2 separate regions of the Homo sapiens genome follow, and region 2 is linked to region 1. A link means that fine-mapping ties the variant in region 1 to the expression of a gene that starts in the linked region. Tissue or cell type: regulatory T cells. Region 1 holds a variant in brackets; the other region holds the start of a gene. All regions are shown on one strand. Distances are between the middles of the regions.

Region 1 (8,106 bases):
TAATAATAAAGGGGTTTGTCCTCCACCGATACATAAGAATCCTTGGTGTATATGCAGCTAACAACAGAGCATCAAAATAGGAGAGGCAACACTCAAAGAGCTGCAACGAGAAACAGACAAATCCACTATTAAAGTTGGAGACTTCAACGCCCTCTCTCAGTAACTGACAGATCCAGCAGGCACAAAATCATAAGGACATAGTTGAACTAAACAGCACTATCAATCAACTGGATCTAATTGACATTTATAGAAGACTTCACCCAACAACAGCCAAATACACAATCTTCTCAAGCACACATGGGACATTAACCAAGATAGACATTCTGGGCCACAAAACACACCTTAGCAAATTTGAAAGAATATAAATCATAGAAAGTATGCTTTCTAGACCACAATGGAACTAAACTAGAAATCAATAACAAAAGCTAGGTGGAAAATATCAAAATATTTGGAGATTCAATAACACACTGCTAAATGACACATGGGTCAAAGGAATCTCAAGAGAAACTGTAAAGTATTTTGAGGAAAATAAAAGTACGACCTATCAAAGTTTGCAAGATGTAATGAAGGCAATGCTTAGAGGGAAATGTATAGCACTGAATGCATATATTAAAAAAGAAGATCACAAATCAATATTCTAAGTTTCCACATTAAGAAGCTCTAAAAAGAAGAGTAAATTAAGTTTAAAATCAGCAGAAGAAAAGACTAATACAAATTAGAGCAGAAATCAATGACATTTAAAATGGAAATCAATACAGAAAAATCAATGGCATTAAAAGCTGGTTCTTTGACAAGATCAATAAAAGTGATAAACCTCTAGCCTGACTAACCAAGAAATAAAGAAAGGCAAATTACTTATCTCAGAGATGAAAGAAAGGGCATCCCTACTGATCCCATGGACATTAAAAATATAATAAAGACATGTTATGAACAACTTTGTGCTCACTACTAGTTGTCAACTCTAGTTCTTTACCACTGCTCTTAATATTATAGTGGCAGTCCTGGTTAATGCAATAAGACAAGAAAAAATGAAAGGTATACAGACTGGGAAAGAAGAAATAAAATGGTGCTTGTTTACACATGACATGATTGTCTATACAGAAAATTCTAAATAAACACACACACACACACACACACCCCACCCACCCCTCTCAGAACTCATGATCAATCAAGCAAAGTCTCAAGATACAAAGTCAACATACAAAAGGTGGTTGCTTTCCTATATATGCTATCTACGAGAACAACTGGAATTTGAAATTAAAAGCACGTCATTTCCATTTGCATCCCCCAAAGTGAAATACTTAACTATAAATCTAACAAAATGTGTTCAAGATTATGGAAGGAAAAGAAACTTATGAAATAAAAGAAGACCAAAATAAATAGATGTTCCATTTTCATGGATAAAAGGTCCTAATATTGTTAATGACGTAGGAGGCAGGACTCAACTCTGGGGGCAGGGCTTGGACTCTGGACCAGATTGAAGACTGGCTGAAACAGGAAACAGGGAAGAGGTGAAAGCGCCTCTTCGTGAGACACGCCCACCAGCACCATGTCAGTTTGCTATTGCCATGGCAACACCCAAAATGTACTGCCCTTTTCCATGACAATGGCCTGACAACCTGGAAATTATCACCCTTTTTCTAGAAATTTCTGCATTGTCTGCTCCTTAATTTTGCATATAACTAAAAGGGGGTATAACTATGCCTTCAGCACTGCCTCTGAGCTGCTGCTCTGGGCACACTGCCTATGGGGTAGCCCTGCTCTGCAGGGAGCAACACCTCTGCTGTTGCTGTACACGTCCACTTCAATAAAAGTTGCTATTTAACACCACCAGCTCACCCTTGAATTCTTTCCTGGGCAAAGCCAAAACCCTCCCAGGCTAAGCCCCAATTTTGGGGCTCACCTGCCTTGCATTGTTAAGATGTCAATTTTTTCCATGTTGATATACAGAGTCAGTGCAATCCCAATCAAAATTCTAGTATGTTATTTTGTGGATATTGAGAAACTGAGTCTAAATTTTATATAGAAAGTCAAAGACCTAAAAGAGTCAACACATTACTGAAAAAGGAAGAACAAAGCTGGGGGACTGACATTACCCAACTTCAAGACAAGCTATAAAGATGCAGTAATCAAAAGAGCATGGTATGAGAGAAAGAACAGACCAATAGATCCATGGAACAGAACGGAGTGCTCAGAAATAGACCCACACAAACACGGCTGACCTTTGGCAAAGAAGCAAAGGCAATTCAATAAGAATGGCTGCTCTTTTCAATGAATTGCTGGAGTAATTGGCCATCCACATGCAAAAAAAAAAAAAAATGAATTTAGACACAGACCTTACATCATTCACAAAAATTAACTCAATATGGATTGTAGATCTATGTGGAAAATACAAAACTATAAAACTTTTAGAAGATATCACAGGAGAAAATCCAGGGAACCTTGGACTTGGAGATGACTTTTAAGATACAATGCCAAAAGTATGATTTAGGAAAGAAAAAAATTGATATGTTGCATTTCATTGAAATTTGAAACTTCTATTCTGAAAAGCACTGTTAAGAGAATGAAAAGACAAGCCACAGACTTGGAAACCATTGTTGCAAAGCACATGTCAGATAAAGGACTTGTACTTAAAATATACAGAGAAATTATTTCACTCAATTTCCCAAAGTCGTTAAACTCAACAATAAGCAAACAAACCCAATTTTCAAATGAACAGACATCTCACCATAGGAGATACACAGATGGCAAGTAAGCATAAAGGGAGACGCTCAATATCATATGTCATTAGGGAACTGCAAAATAAAACAACAATGACACATTACTACACACTTATTAGAATGACTAAAACCCAAAACACTGACAATAGCCAATGCTGCTGAAGATGTGGAGTAAGAGGAACTCTCATTCATTGCTGGTAAGATGCAAAATGGTACAGCCACTTTGGAAGACAGTTGAGCAGCTCCTCACAAAGGTAAACAGGCCCTAAACATACTCTTACCACACAGTTAATTAGTAATTGTGTCTTTAGAAAAACAAAAGCTTCACATAACTATCTATAGCAGTTTTATTCATAATTGCCAAAACTGGAAGCAGCTAAGATGTCCTTCAATAGATGAATGGATACAGCCTCACATTGGAATATTACTCAGTGATTAAAAACAAATGAGCTATCAAGCCATGGAAGGACATGGAGAAACGTTAAATGCGTATTGCTAAGTGCAATAAGTCACTCTGAAAAGGCTGCATATTGTATGATTTCAATTACATAACATTCCGAGAAAGGCAAAGCAATGGACATAGTAAAAGTTCAGCGCTAGCCAGAAGTCTGAGCTACGGCAAGGAGTGATGAGTAGGTGGAGCACGGGGGATTTTTATGTGGAGCACAAGGGATTTTATGTGGAGCACAGAGAATTTTTATGTGAAGCACGGCGGATTTTTATGTGGAGCACGGCGGATTTTTTTGTGATGAAAGTGTTCTGAAGCACAGCAATCGGCGGTAACTGCCATTTGCATTTGTTAAAGCCCAGAGAGCTTTACCCACAACACAGAGTGAACCGGAATGTAAACTATGGGCTTTAGTTAGTTACAATGTATCAATACTGGTTCATTAATAGTAACAAATGTAGCACACTAATGCAAGATTTTAATAATGGAGAAAAGTAAAGGCACATGTGGGAACTCTGTGCTTTCTGTTCGATATGTCTGTAAATCTAAAAAAATAAGTCTGTTAATGAAAAACATATATACTGAGAAACTGTGTCAGGTTTACAAAGATGAAACAATTAAACAGTCCCAGCCATTACTTTTAAGGATCCACTGTCTGGTGTAAGAGACAGCATCATATGTCAGCTTTCATGGGGAAGTCAGGAAGGACATGAGATGGACAGCGCCCAGGATGAAACACTCAGCTCCTTGCAGGAGAGGGACCAGGAGAGGCTTCTGTCAATGCTAAAGTGTCATGAAAATACAAGCCAGTGATTATTATTGGGGTTGCCGTGGCTCCTGCGGTATCTCACGTACAGATTTCAATATTTACATGACTCAGCTCTGCAGCTTTATTTATCCTCCCTCCCAGAGCTCTGGAAAGCAGGAACTGGGATTTTCTTCTAGGTGTTGTGGAAACCATCGGATAATTGTCATCAGGGGAGTTTGAAATATCATTCTGGCTGCTGTATGGTAAAGGGATTGAGGAGCAAGAAGGGAAGGCAACTCGAAGGCCAAGTCTAAGGTGAAGTAAGAATAATAGTGACTGGGGCTAAAATGCCAGCAACGGAGACAGGGGGAGGGAAGCAGAGAGATTCAAGATGTATTCTGCAGGAAAAGTCAGCTTCCCAGGTCAAAAAACTGCTCAAGCCATCTGAAGGACAGAGAATTCAGTGATCATGCCTAGATTTCTGGCTTAAACAATTGCAAAATGATGAGGTTTATCAATCCGGGAAGACGAGCATTGAAAAAATAAAAGTGCGGGTTAACAAAAGTTGAATTTCTATGTTGCCAGCGTTAAGCCTGAAATGCACATTTTACATGCACATGGAGATGTTATGTCAGCTTCTTGATGCAGAATTATAGATGTTGACAAAGAACTTTGAGGTACTCCAACCTTTAAATATCAATTAAAAGAGGAGCCAGCAAAGTGGGTGCGATGAATAGCCCAGGGAAGAGAAAATAAACCAGGAGAACACACTGATAGAAAATCCAAAAGGAAAACGGCGAAAAGAAGGAAGGGTCAGCTGGATCCAGTGTTGCCGTGGGATC[T/C]TCTGTGATAAGAGCATTGACTAATGGACTTGGCAATGAGAAAAATCGCTGGAGATTTTCTCAAGATCAACATTGTGAGGTGGAGGGGACAGATGGCCAGAGGGAGAGAAAGGTGGAGGACGGAGCAATGGGAAACGGATGAAGGGTGAGTGAAAGAGGAACTAGGTATAGGTGGATCAATGGAGGGAGTGATGGATAATTGGATAGCTGGGTGAATGGATACGCAGATAAACTGAGGGAAATGATTAACCGATCGAGTGATCAATTTATAACAGAGGAGATGTATTGATTAAAGATGGTGCCCAATAAGGCATGATGAAGGAGAATTAAAGGAACCTGATGTTGTGAAGTGGGTATCATTAGGTCAGATGGAAAGGTGGCATTAGGATAGCCATAAATGAGCTGCTTCTGAGTCAGGGAGGACTTAGTTCAAAGGTGGGGAAGAAAGAGGACTTTAGAACCACTGATCCTTAGTTCACATAGCATGCTTTAAACATTTATGGATTATTAAGGGCTGTTTCCCTTAAGGCAACAGAAATGCAACTCAGACTCAATTAACAAAACAGGGAATTTATTGTTTTGAATAACTGGAACGTCTCAAGGTCAGACTGATCTTCTGGCACCACTAGATCCAGACTCCCGGGCGTCCTCAGGGCCTCCTGCTCTGCCTTCCTCCCAACTGACTTCATTTACAGAAAAAATGCTAACAGGGATGACTTTTCCCACAATGGGGCAAAATTAGCTCTTACTGGGCAAAAAATCTTAGCTATTATAATGGTTTTGGGACCCCACAAAAGGCCCCAGTATATTAAAATATATATATATATATATATATATATATATATATATATATATATATATATATATAAAATACTATTAAAACATAACAAGTGGGTAGTAGTGACTGCAGTAAAATTGTCTAAAAATCACTTCATGGGTCAATAATAAGAAAAGATTGAGACACATCAGTATATGGACAGGCTTTCCCACAGGTGACAACAAGATTCTATCCTTCTAGGAGGTCAAGTTCAGGTAGAAGGCAACACCCCTTCCTAATGGTCCAGCCAAAAGTCCTAGGGCTGCCTCTCAGCCAGCAGGTTTGATCCTGGGCCTAGCACTGTGTCTCTGAGTAGCCAGGATTTAGGCATATGATCATGCTGGGGCTTTGGGGAAGGCATCAACCTCACCTGCACAAGAGGAGGGAGCATATCACCCCCCAAAAAACTGATGAAGATGGGAAGGGGAAAATGATTTGGAATGGGTAGAGACCAAAAGATGTGTGTCCCAGAACGGTTGCATGCCAGTTAGGTAGGGTGGAAGCCTGTTGCTACGATGTGGGGAAGGTTGTCTGCTTCTCAACCTGTGGCCAGTGAAATGTATGCAGAATTGATGTGTATCAGCTCCGGACAAACATTTTCAGGGCCATGATGCTCTATCTCCTGCGGCACTGCTATTGAAAGCACAGGGATAGATTGCTCTTCTGTGAACCTGAGTCTCTGAGGCTACAGCAGCCCCTGACTACGTACTCAGTGAGAAGCAAGCTGGGTTCAGTCACTGGCCCAGGGGCATTTTTGTTATCACAGCATAACCAGGTCTATACTGACAGCTACACTTGGCAATAACTTTAAGGTACTATAGACTAAGAACTTTGCTTTATGGCACATGATCTAATTAAATGAGTTAGCAAACACAAGGAATATAGAAAAATGGAGAAATAACAGTTCCTTAAAAGTTTGTCTCTAACACATGATCATTCACTTTGCATTGTCATGCCAAGCCATCATTCATGGCTGAATTTTTTTTTTTGATGACCTCACTTAGTGTCCCTGGGCATTGCTTGAGTGAGAACCATGTGCTATAGATGCCCTGATTTCATTCCTAGTGTCTGTTCTGAGCACCCTCTGGGTGTCAGATTCTGGGGCAGTTACACACCCAGTCAGTCCACAAATCTTTATCAAGACTTCTTATGGGTCAGGTAATGAGCTAGACTCTAAGAATAAAGTGTGAAACAAAGACTTATTGAAAAAGAAAAGAGCCATATAAATCTGATGACGTGGCTTTTCTTGTAAAACAGCAAGCTTATTCTGTATAGTTCATGCATTATTGACTTCAGAATTAACTTAAATGAGTATAGCTGATGAATCAATGACTTGTGACAACTTTGGGCAGTGGGTCTCAACGAATTCAGCTTCCTAGGCCTTCAGAATTAACTTAAATGAGTATAGCTGATGAATCAATGACTTGTGACAACTTTGGGCAGTGGGTCTCAACGAATTCAGCTTCCTAGGCCTTCAGAATTAACTTAAATGAGTATAGCTGATGAATCAATGACTTGTGACAACTTTGGGCAGTGGGTCTCAACGAATTCAGCTTCCTAGGCCTTCAGAATTAACTTAAATGAGTATAGCTGATGAATCAATGACTTGTGACAACTTTGGGCAGTGGGTCTCAACGAATTCAGCTTCCTAGGCCTTCAGAATTAACTTAAATGAGTATAGCTGATGAATCAATGACTTGTGACAACTTTGGGCAGTGGGTCTCAACGAATTCAGCTTCCTAGGCCTTCAGAATTAACTTAAATGAGTATAGCTGATGAATCAATGACTTGTGACAACTTTGGGCAGTGGGTCTCAACGAATTCAGCTTCCTAGGCCTTCAGAATTAACTTAAATGAGTATAGCTGATGAATCAATGACTTGTGACAACTTTGGGCAGTGGGTTTCAATGAATTCAGATCCCTAGGCCCCACCCAACACCTGCTGAATCAGAATCAGGAGATTGAGCCTAGAAATCTGGATCTTTGATCACGTATTCTGGGAGACTCTGACACATTCCAAAATTTGAACATCTTTGCTCCAAGTTGTAATTAGTCATTGAAACATTAGTGAGAATGGGTGCCAGACCCTCGGTAAGCCAAGTACTGAGAATGGTACTGAGGAAGCACGCTTCACTCAAAACTTCTCATGAGCACTCTCTTGCAAAATGATCAAAGATTTTTCAAGGAAAATATTAAAAGCTTTGCTCTAAAAGTCCTAATGTCTGCAGAGACACTTGGTGTGCGTTATTACGCACCAGCTGCTTGGCTATGTCAACGTGGAGCAGCCTGGATCTGCCCTGGGATGGCCTTCATCTGAGCACTTGGCCGCCTGTGCCTCACACAAAGCCTCAGGGCTGCACCTCTGGAACAAGAGAGAGACAAGAAATAGAAGATATTTCTAGGCCGGGCGCAGTGGCTCACACCTGTAATCCTAGCACTTTGGGAGGCCGAGGAGGGTGGATCACCTGAGGTCAGGAGTTCAAGACCAGCCTCAACATGGAGAAACCCCGTCTTTACTAAAAATACAAAAT
Region 2 (8,106 bases), 770 kb after region 1:
AGTGCCACATGCAGTCTCATTTTCTCGCAGAAATCCAAATTGCTTTGCCTTTTCCTTCAGAGAGCATTTTCCTTTGTTTCCGACTTGCCCATTGGGCGCAGCACACCTGTGTGGACACACTGTCGGCACACACGCTGGCCGGTCCTCCACCGAGGGTCAGGAGCACTGAGGAGGCATCTCCCTGGCCACGGGCAGTGCCACAGGAGCTGCACTCAGGCTCCCAACCTTCACAGGTGCGTAAGGTGCACTGGGGCATGCTCAGAGCCCCCTGTCATCTGTCCACGCGGGTGAGGACATGCTGGGTGGTCTGGTGGCTCAGTATGAGGCAGACCACTTGACTGGGATGGTGTCTTCAGGAAATCCTGGAAACAAGACAGAGGTTTGAAAACCTCACTGCAAAGACACAATAAGCTACGTATACATAGTGGTATACATATGCACGCACATACATGCACGTCCACAATCCATGTTCCTATGCACCTGTTCCTGCCCATGCAGGTTCATGCACACATATTCCCTGCAAATGTTTGTCAGGCACCTGCCAGGTGCCTCATGCTGTTCCAGGTGCTGGGATTGAGCCATGAACACCTGATACAGACAATGTCCCTATTCTTACAGATCTCGTATTCTAGGTGTCCCTGTTCTTACAGATCTCATATTCTAGAGACTAGAGATGGAGAGATGGTGACAAATGAGCAAACACATGTATACTACATTAGGAGAATGTGTGAGTCCATTCTCACACTGCTAATAAAGACATACCCGAGACTGGGTAATTTATGGAGGAAAGACGTTTGATTGACTCACAGTTCAGCATGGCTGGAGGGGTCTCAGGAAACTTCCAATCATGGCAGAAGGGGAAGCAAACACATCCTTCTTCATGTGGCGGCAGCGAGGAGAAGTGCCGAGAAAAAGGGGGAAAAGCCCCTTATAAAACCATCAGATCTCACGAGAACTCACTAACACGAGAACCGCAGCATCTGGGTAACCACCCCCATGATTCAATTATCTCCCACGGGGTACCTCGAACAATACGTGGGGATTTATGGGAACTACAATTCAAGATGAGATTTGGGTGGGGACGCCAGCAAACCATATCAGAGGGCTAAGTGCTGAGAAGGAGGGAGGGAGGAGAGCAGATGTGGGCATACAGATGTGAGAGGCATACCTTAACCAAGTGTCAAGAGAAGGCCTGCCGCATCAGAGCTTTCAGTCAGAGCCCTCCAGTAGGAGAGTGAATTCTGTGCACAGCTAGGAAACATCTCAGCGGCAGAGACAGGGAGCACGGGGTCCTGTCCAGATGTCCACACTGCACGGATGCGCACACACGGTGAACAAGGGTCTGTGCATGCTCACACAGCGAACCAGCACATCTACCCAGATGCGCACATCTGTGCATGTACACTGGGCACAGGACTCTGCATCCAGATACAAGCGTGTGCACAGAGACGCACAGGAGGCAGATGCACGTGCAGAGGATGAGAACCTGAGCCCACGGACCAGGCCAGCCCAGCCTCCGTGTTGGGCAGCAGCCCCCACGTCCTCAGGCGCTGCTGGGCAGTAACAGAGGCACCAGGTAAATCTTTATCTGGTGGAAAGGCAGCATCTCATTTGACCTTTGAAAAAACGAAACATTCCAAGCCCAGGGAAAAGTGAATAATCTATAAAACAGTGACTCCCTACCACTCAGATTTAGTCATTTTTGAAATATTTGCTTTAAATATTTTCCTAAGAAATAAAACCTTGCAAATGTAGTTGAAGGACTCACCTCATATCCCTGAAGGCTGCCATGGTCTCCACCTGGTGCCCCAGACCCTCTGAGATTTTCCAAAAGTTCACGTGTAGCCGGCCTCCCTCCCTTTCCTTTTCCCAAATTCTAACACATGTGTGTGTTCGTAAGCCAGGCGGAGTTAGATTTTCTGTGTTTTACTAAACAGACAAATCATGTTGCAGGTTTCATTGTACACCTTGCTTTAACAAATGTGTCTTTGATATTGATCCAAATTGTTACACAGAGATGCAGCCCATTCATTTTAACTTCTTTGTAACTTTCCATCGGAGGGATAAGCTACATCCATTCTGGGTTTCTGTTTTCTTTATGACAACCAATTCTTCTTTCGGCACTTGGCTTGATACACGTGAGTGAGATGTTGTCAACTCTTCTCCAAAATGTCCTTGCACATTTACAATCTCATCTCCTGCAGGCTCCTGCGGTTTCCCTGCTCCGTCAACAACGGGTATTGTGGAACTTTGTACTTTTAGAAATCCCATGGATACAATGCGGCATCTCATTACAGTTTTAATTTTCTTGATTAACAGTGTGGGGGAACATATTTTCTGTGCTTGTTAACTAGCTCTTCAAGCTCCCTGGTTTATAATGATCTGTCCTTGTCCTTCACTCAGGCTCCTGTAGAGGAGACGAAATCATTTTTCTTAATGATTCATAGCAATGCTGTGTATGTTTTGAATATGAGTTTTTGTTTTTCATATGTGTCACAAATATCTTCTGGATCTGTGGCTTTCATTTTCCTCAGAACATGCTCTGTGATACAGGAGATTTATTTTTCATGTGGTCGTTTTAAAATTGATTTTTGGCCCAGCACGGTGGCTCACGCCTGTAATCCCAGCACTTTGGGAGACCGAGGCAGGCGGATCACCTGAGGTCAGGGGTTCAAGACCAGCCTGGTCAACACGGTGAAACTGCGTCTCTACTAAAAATATAAAAATTAGCCAGTCGTGGTGGCGGGCGCCTATAATCCCAGCTACTCGGGAGACTGAGGCAGGAGAATCGCTTGAACCCGGGAGGCGGAGGTTGCAATGAGCCGAGATCAAGCCATTGCACTCTAACCTGGACGACAGAGTGGGATTCCATCTCAATCAATCAATCAATCAATTTTTACTTTTCGGATTGTGTATAAGAAACTCTTTCTGTTCTTAGGTCGTAAAGACCGTCTCCATCGCTTCTTCCGTTCGTGCGGTGGCCTCTCCTCTCACCATGGTGGCCTGGAGGCACCCAGATTTCTCTGGCCACGCGGCGCTCCAAGTCAGGAGTCAGCGCACAAGCCACGCGCGGACACCAGAACAGCCTGGAGGAAAAGCAGCCTCGTTCTGTTACCTTCTGCTGGTTACCCAGAGCCCGGTCCCTGCAGCCTGTGGGGAGAGACACAGACCCCCACTCTGCATCCGGGCGGAGTCACCCAGCGTTTACCCGCGTGTATTTCAAACTGCCGCAAGGACTACGTTTACTTTTCTCGCCCTGCTTCCGTGTTCTGCCATTTTTGAGGTCTCCACCACGGTCCCCTGGCCCCGGCCTAGACCCGGGCCTTTCCCCAGGGGTCCTGCTCCTCCGTGGCCCTGGACCGCTTGGCCCCTGTGCTCCTCTTTCCCTGGCTCCAGGATGCAGCCAGCTTCTCTTCAAGAAACTCAACCCCGGCTTGTGTTACCCCGAGGGTGTTTCCAGGCGTGCGAGGGGTGTGAGGGGTGGGACTGCACAGCGCGTCCCAGCCTCGGTCCCGGGCCCGGCCCCGGCAGACTCTGGAGAAGCCCAGGAGCGCGTGTCCCCGCCGGCCCCGCTCAGCCTGACCTGCTTTTCCCCACAGAGGTGCCGGGGTTCGGTGCAGTCTGGCCGTGTCCTCCTCTTCTCGCGGTTTCAGATTCTTCTTGCGTGACATTTTATCACACAAGACCGTGTTCGGGGATGGGGTGTTCTGAGCACGCCCTTACCGAGCCAGGCTCACCCAGTTCCCCATCTAGAGCTCCCTGCTGGCATCTCTCACCTGGGACCCCAGCCTGCAAGACTCCGACACCCACGCCCTTAGGGTGATGTGGCCGCGCCCAGCCTGCGCTCAGCACCACGGGAGGGAGGGCGGCAGGCGGAAGCCCCGGCCATCTTGGGAAGGGCCTTTTGGGACCGTGTGTTCCGCTGAGAACCACAGACCCATGCTTCAGACGCTACAGATTTCTCTCTCAAATGCCTGGATTCAAAATATAAAAGTGTGTTTGAGCAAACAGCAAAATATTTGGGAAATTCTCCCAGCGAGGCTTCTAATGACCCCGTAGGAAAAGCCAGGCTGCTCCCTGCTGCGCCTCCAGCGAACTTCCCACCGGGCAGGACTCTGGGAAGAAGAGCAAAGGGTTCTATTTTGCGTAGAATTTAAATAAAATTGCTTCACAGACGGGAAACGTCAAGCAAGCAGCACTCTGAGCCCATGCGTGCTTTTAATGCCTGAATGACATCGCAATTCAGTCTGAGTTCCCGCCTGGGCTCAGGGCCTTCTGAACTGCCGGGGGCTGTGAAATGGTTTATAATCAGAAGAGAAGCAGTGAGAGTTTAGATCCAAGATCCAAGGAAGTGTTTTCAGACTCAGTGTTAGCACATTTGTGTCTATACCAGTCCAGGCAGGAGGCTGAGGCAGAAGAATCGCTTGAACCCAGAAGGCAGAGGTTGCAGTGAGCCGAGATCGTGCCACTGCACTCCAGCCTGGGCAACAGAGCGAGACTCCATCTCAAAAAAAAAAAAAAAAAAAAAAAAACCACCATCAGATCTCGTGAGAAAGTACTGTCAGAATAGCCTGGGGGAAAACCACCCCCATGATTTAGTTACCTCCCACTGGCTCCCTCCCATGACACATGGGGATTATGGGAGCTACAATTCAAGATGAGATTTGGGTGAGGACACGGCCAAACCATATCAGGCTTCCACCCTCATAAACAGATTAATGTCATTATCGAGAGAGTGGGTTTGTTACCTCAAGAGTGGGGTTTCTAAAGTGAGCCTGGCCTCTCCTGCTCGGACTCAGGCCCTGGCTCCTGCCCTCCATCCTTCTCCCATGGGATGACCTTTGCCAGATGCCAGCACCATTGTCCTGGACTTTGTAGTCTCCAGAACTGCGAATGAAATAAATCTCATTTCTTTATAAATTACCCAGCCGGTGGCATTTCATTACAGCAGCAGAAAACAGAATAAGACAGTGGTCCTCTCTGTTATTTCTTGGTGTCTGTTTTTATGAATTTAAGGACATAATTATAGATTTTCTATTCATTAGCTTCTTTAGGTTTATTCTGTTATTCTCTGATGTTTTAAGTCAAGCTTTATTTTAAAGTTTTTCTTACTTCCTACATATGTTAAAGGTGACACATTTTCATGTAAATGAGGGATTTCTGCTAACCGTAGCTTACGGGAACAGAGCCACACCTCTTCATTTTCATACTGCCTGTGTTCGCTTTCTGACCAATCCAGCAGAGAAGAGGAGATGCAACAGAGACTATCCCACAAAGCCAAATATATTTTTATTTTTGTTTGTAAAAAATATTAGTAATAATATTTTTAAATGGGAAATGATCATCATCTGCACTTGTGAAATGCCATGTGGTATTTGGATGTATGTGCAAAACATGGAGTGATTAATTAAAGCCAATTAATATATCCATTGATTCTCTTAGTTATTTTGAAATATACAACACATTATTGTTAACCAGAGTCACCTGCTTTGCAGTAGGTCTCAAGCATGCTACTACCTGCCCCTCCACAAGACAGTTTTGCTAGTCACCTGCTTTGCAATAGGCCTCAAGCACACTACTACCTGCCCCTCCACAGAGACAGTTTGCTGACCCTTCCTAGGTGAAGCATTCTCTGCATTCACTCCAGAAGTCTCAATATGCAGCATTTATGTGGTCATTGTGTTTCAAATATTTTCAAATTTTGATTGTAATCTTCCTTGATTTACGATTCCTTCAGAAATAGGTTTTTATGGTTCCATATTTATGGGGCTGTTTTTCTCATTATTTCTAATTTCGATATGTGGAGTTCAGAGAATGTAGTCCATAAATACTTATTTTTTTAGTAATTGTTGGAATTTTTCTAAATGTCTCATGAATGCTTGATTCTTAGGTTCACAGATTTGAAGCAGCTATTATAGAAAACTTATTAATTATCTTGACAAGAATCCTTCGCTACTAATTTTGGGTCTGTGTAGCCACTTTAGGATTGATAGTTGTGTCGAACACTCTCATCATGATTTTGTATTCGTGTTTTTCTCCTTGAGTTTTTATCCATTGCATCCATTTGAAATTATGTTAATATACTAAGTTTCACAATTATGCTATGACCCTGATAAATAATTTCGTTTCTCGTGATGCAGTGGCTCTCTTTATTCTTGATAATGTGGTTTGATTTAATATCTATTTGTCTGGTATAATCGGGCGATTCCAGCCTTGCTTGGGTTAGTGTTTTTCTCATACTTTCTGTATCTTGCTTTCATTCTTTCCATGTTATGTTCTTTTTGATATGTCTCTTGTCAACAATGCATGTTTTACATATGTGTAGACACCTGGGGAGGTAGATTTCCTATATTTTCTCTAATAAATTTCTTTACTTGCATTTCTTTTAGTTAACAATGTATTAAATTCAGTTATGCAACCTTACTTAGGGCTTTGTACTACCCGTACTTCTAAGACGTCGCTCTCTTGAGCTTTTTACTGGTTTAGGTAGTATACATCATTTCTATTCTTTAAGCAATTACACCTAAATTTCATAATATCTACACTAAACCTATCAACATCTAAATGTACCTAGTAACTTTAACTCCCTCTACAACTATACAAAACCTACACAACATGTTAACTCCAACAATCTCCTTCCCATTTTACAAGGTTTCTCTGTTGAGGTTTCATAGAGGGCCAATGAAAAACTCCATTCTGACCCGTGCTCAAGCTGAGCCAATTTAAAAATAAGACAAAATTAATGCTTATTAAAAGAAAGCTTGAAGGTAATTCCTGGAGAACTTGTGACACGTTTGGAAAAGGTTGAAGGACTGGAGCTGGGTGGGCTGGTGGCTTTCAGAAAAGATGTGGGACACGTAAAGTGAGACAGGGCCAGGGACAGGAGAGGAGTCTCCTGCTTCTCTGAAAGTCCTTCTCCGTTTCATCCATGTTGAGTAAGTGCCATCATGTCTGGGCACTCAGGACACAATGGTGAATGAGAGTGCCCCGGCCCTGTCTCCTGGAAGCTGGGGTTGATGGGGACCTCCCAACTGCAGGCCAGCGGTGCCCTGCCCTCTACTGAGCATAGGGACACGGGGTTCTGGTCTCCTTAGCACCCAGGCTGACCCCTCTACAGGAGCCTCTGTGATGAGGACCAGGGACGGCACCTGCATCACTCTCAAAGGGAAATTCATCTCACTCCCTCCATCCCTCCCTTCTCTCTCCTTCCCACCCTCCCTCTCTTCCTTCCTCTCTCTCTCTCTTCCTCCCTCTCTCTCTCTCTTCCTCCCTCTTCCTTCCTCCCTTCCTCTGCCCCCTCCACCCTACCCTCCCTCCCTCCCTTTCTTTCTCTCCATCTATTATGGACTGAATGATTGTGAATCCCCAGATCCCTCTGTTGAAGCCCTAATCGCAGTGTAACGCTATTTGTGGATGGGGCCTTTGGAAGGTGATGAGGTCATGAACCCTCACGAATAGGATTAGTGACCTTGGAATAAGAGACACAAGATAAATGATTCCCTTCTGCCACTGAGGACACAACGAGAAGGCGCCATCTCCAAGCCAGGAAGGGGGCCCTCAGCAGACACCGAGTCAGCACCGTGATGATCCTGGGCTTCCCAGACACCACACCTGAGAGAAATAAATGCCTAGTGTTTCAGCCCCCAGTCTATGGTAATTAGTGATTGCAGCTCAAACTAAGACACCCTTCGCCTTGACATAACCATAGCGACACTTTGGATAAAACTTCCTTCATTTTGGATGTGACTCTGGACACTTCCTGGTCTTCGTACACTGCAGACATGAAGTGTCATCCAGCGGCATGTGCTGGACTGGGGCACCCTTGGTGTTGCCTTCATACACTGCAGACATGAAGTGTCATCCAGCTGCATGTGCTGGGCTGGGGCACCCTTGGTGTTGTCTTCATACACTGCAGACATGAAGTGTCATCCAGCTGCATGTGCTGGGCTGGGGCACCCTTGGTGTTGTCTGCTGTCACACTGGGAGCCTGGACCCTGCGGGCAGGGCTCACAGAGGTTGCAGGGCCATCCTCTCGTGGAAAATGTCTCTAGACTGCTTTACTTTTTTGATCCTTAATAAAATAAAATACACTTTCTTAGCTCCCTA

What was found. PIP is the estimated chance that this variant, and not a neighbour inherited with it, causes the effect.
Region 2: it holds the start of NHIP, and the variant in region 1 is fine-mapped to the expression of NHIP in regulatory T cells (Schmiedel 2018, PIP 0.95).

Annotation. Positions count from the first base shown.
Region 1 is chr22:48,283,342-48,291,447 of GRCh38, forward strand. No RefSeq gene overlaps it. Among named protein-coding and RNA genes, the nearest start is that of MIR3201, 13 kb to the left of the region's middle. The variant T/C (reference allele first, on the strand shown) is at 4,759.
Region 2 is chr22:49,048,588-49,056,693 of GRCh38, forward strand. It overlaps NHIP (neuronal hypoxia inducible, placenta associated), which reads right to left and starts at 3,798. Exons shown (of 4, transcript NR_183584.1): 1 at 1,769-3,798; 2 at 1,169-1,616; 3 at 808-876. RefSeq lists a silencer at 20-176 and an enhancer at 3,765-3,844.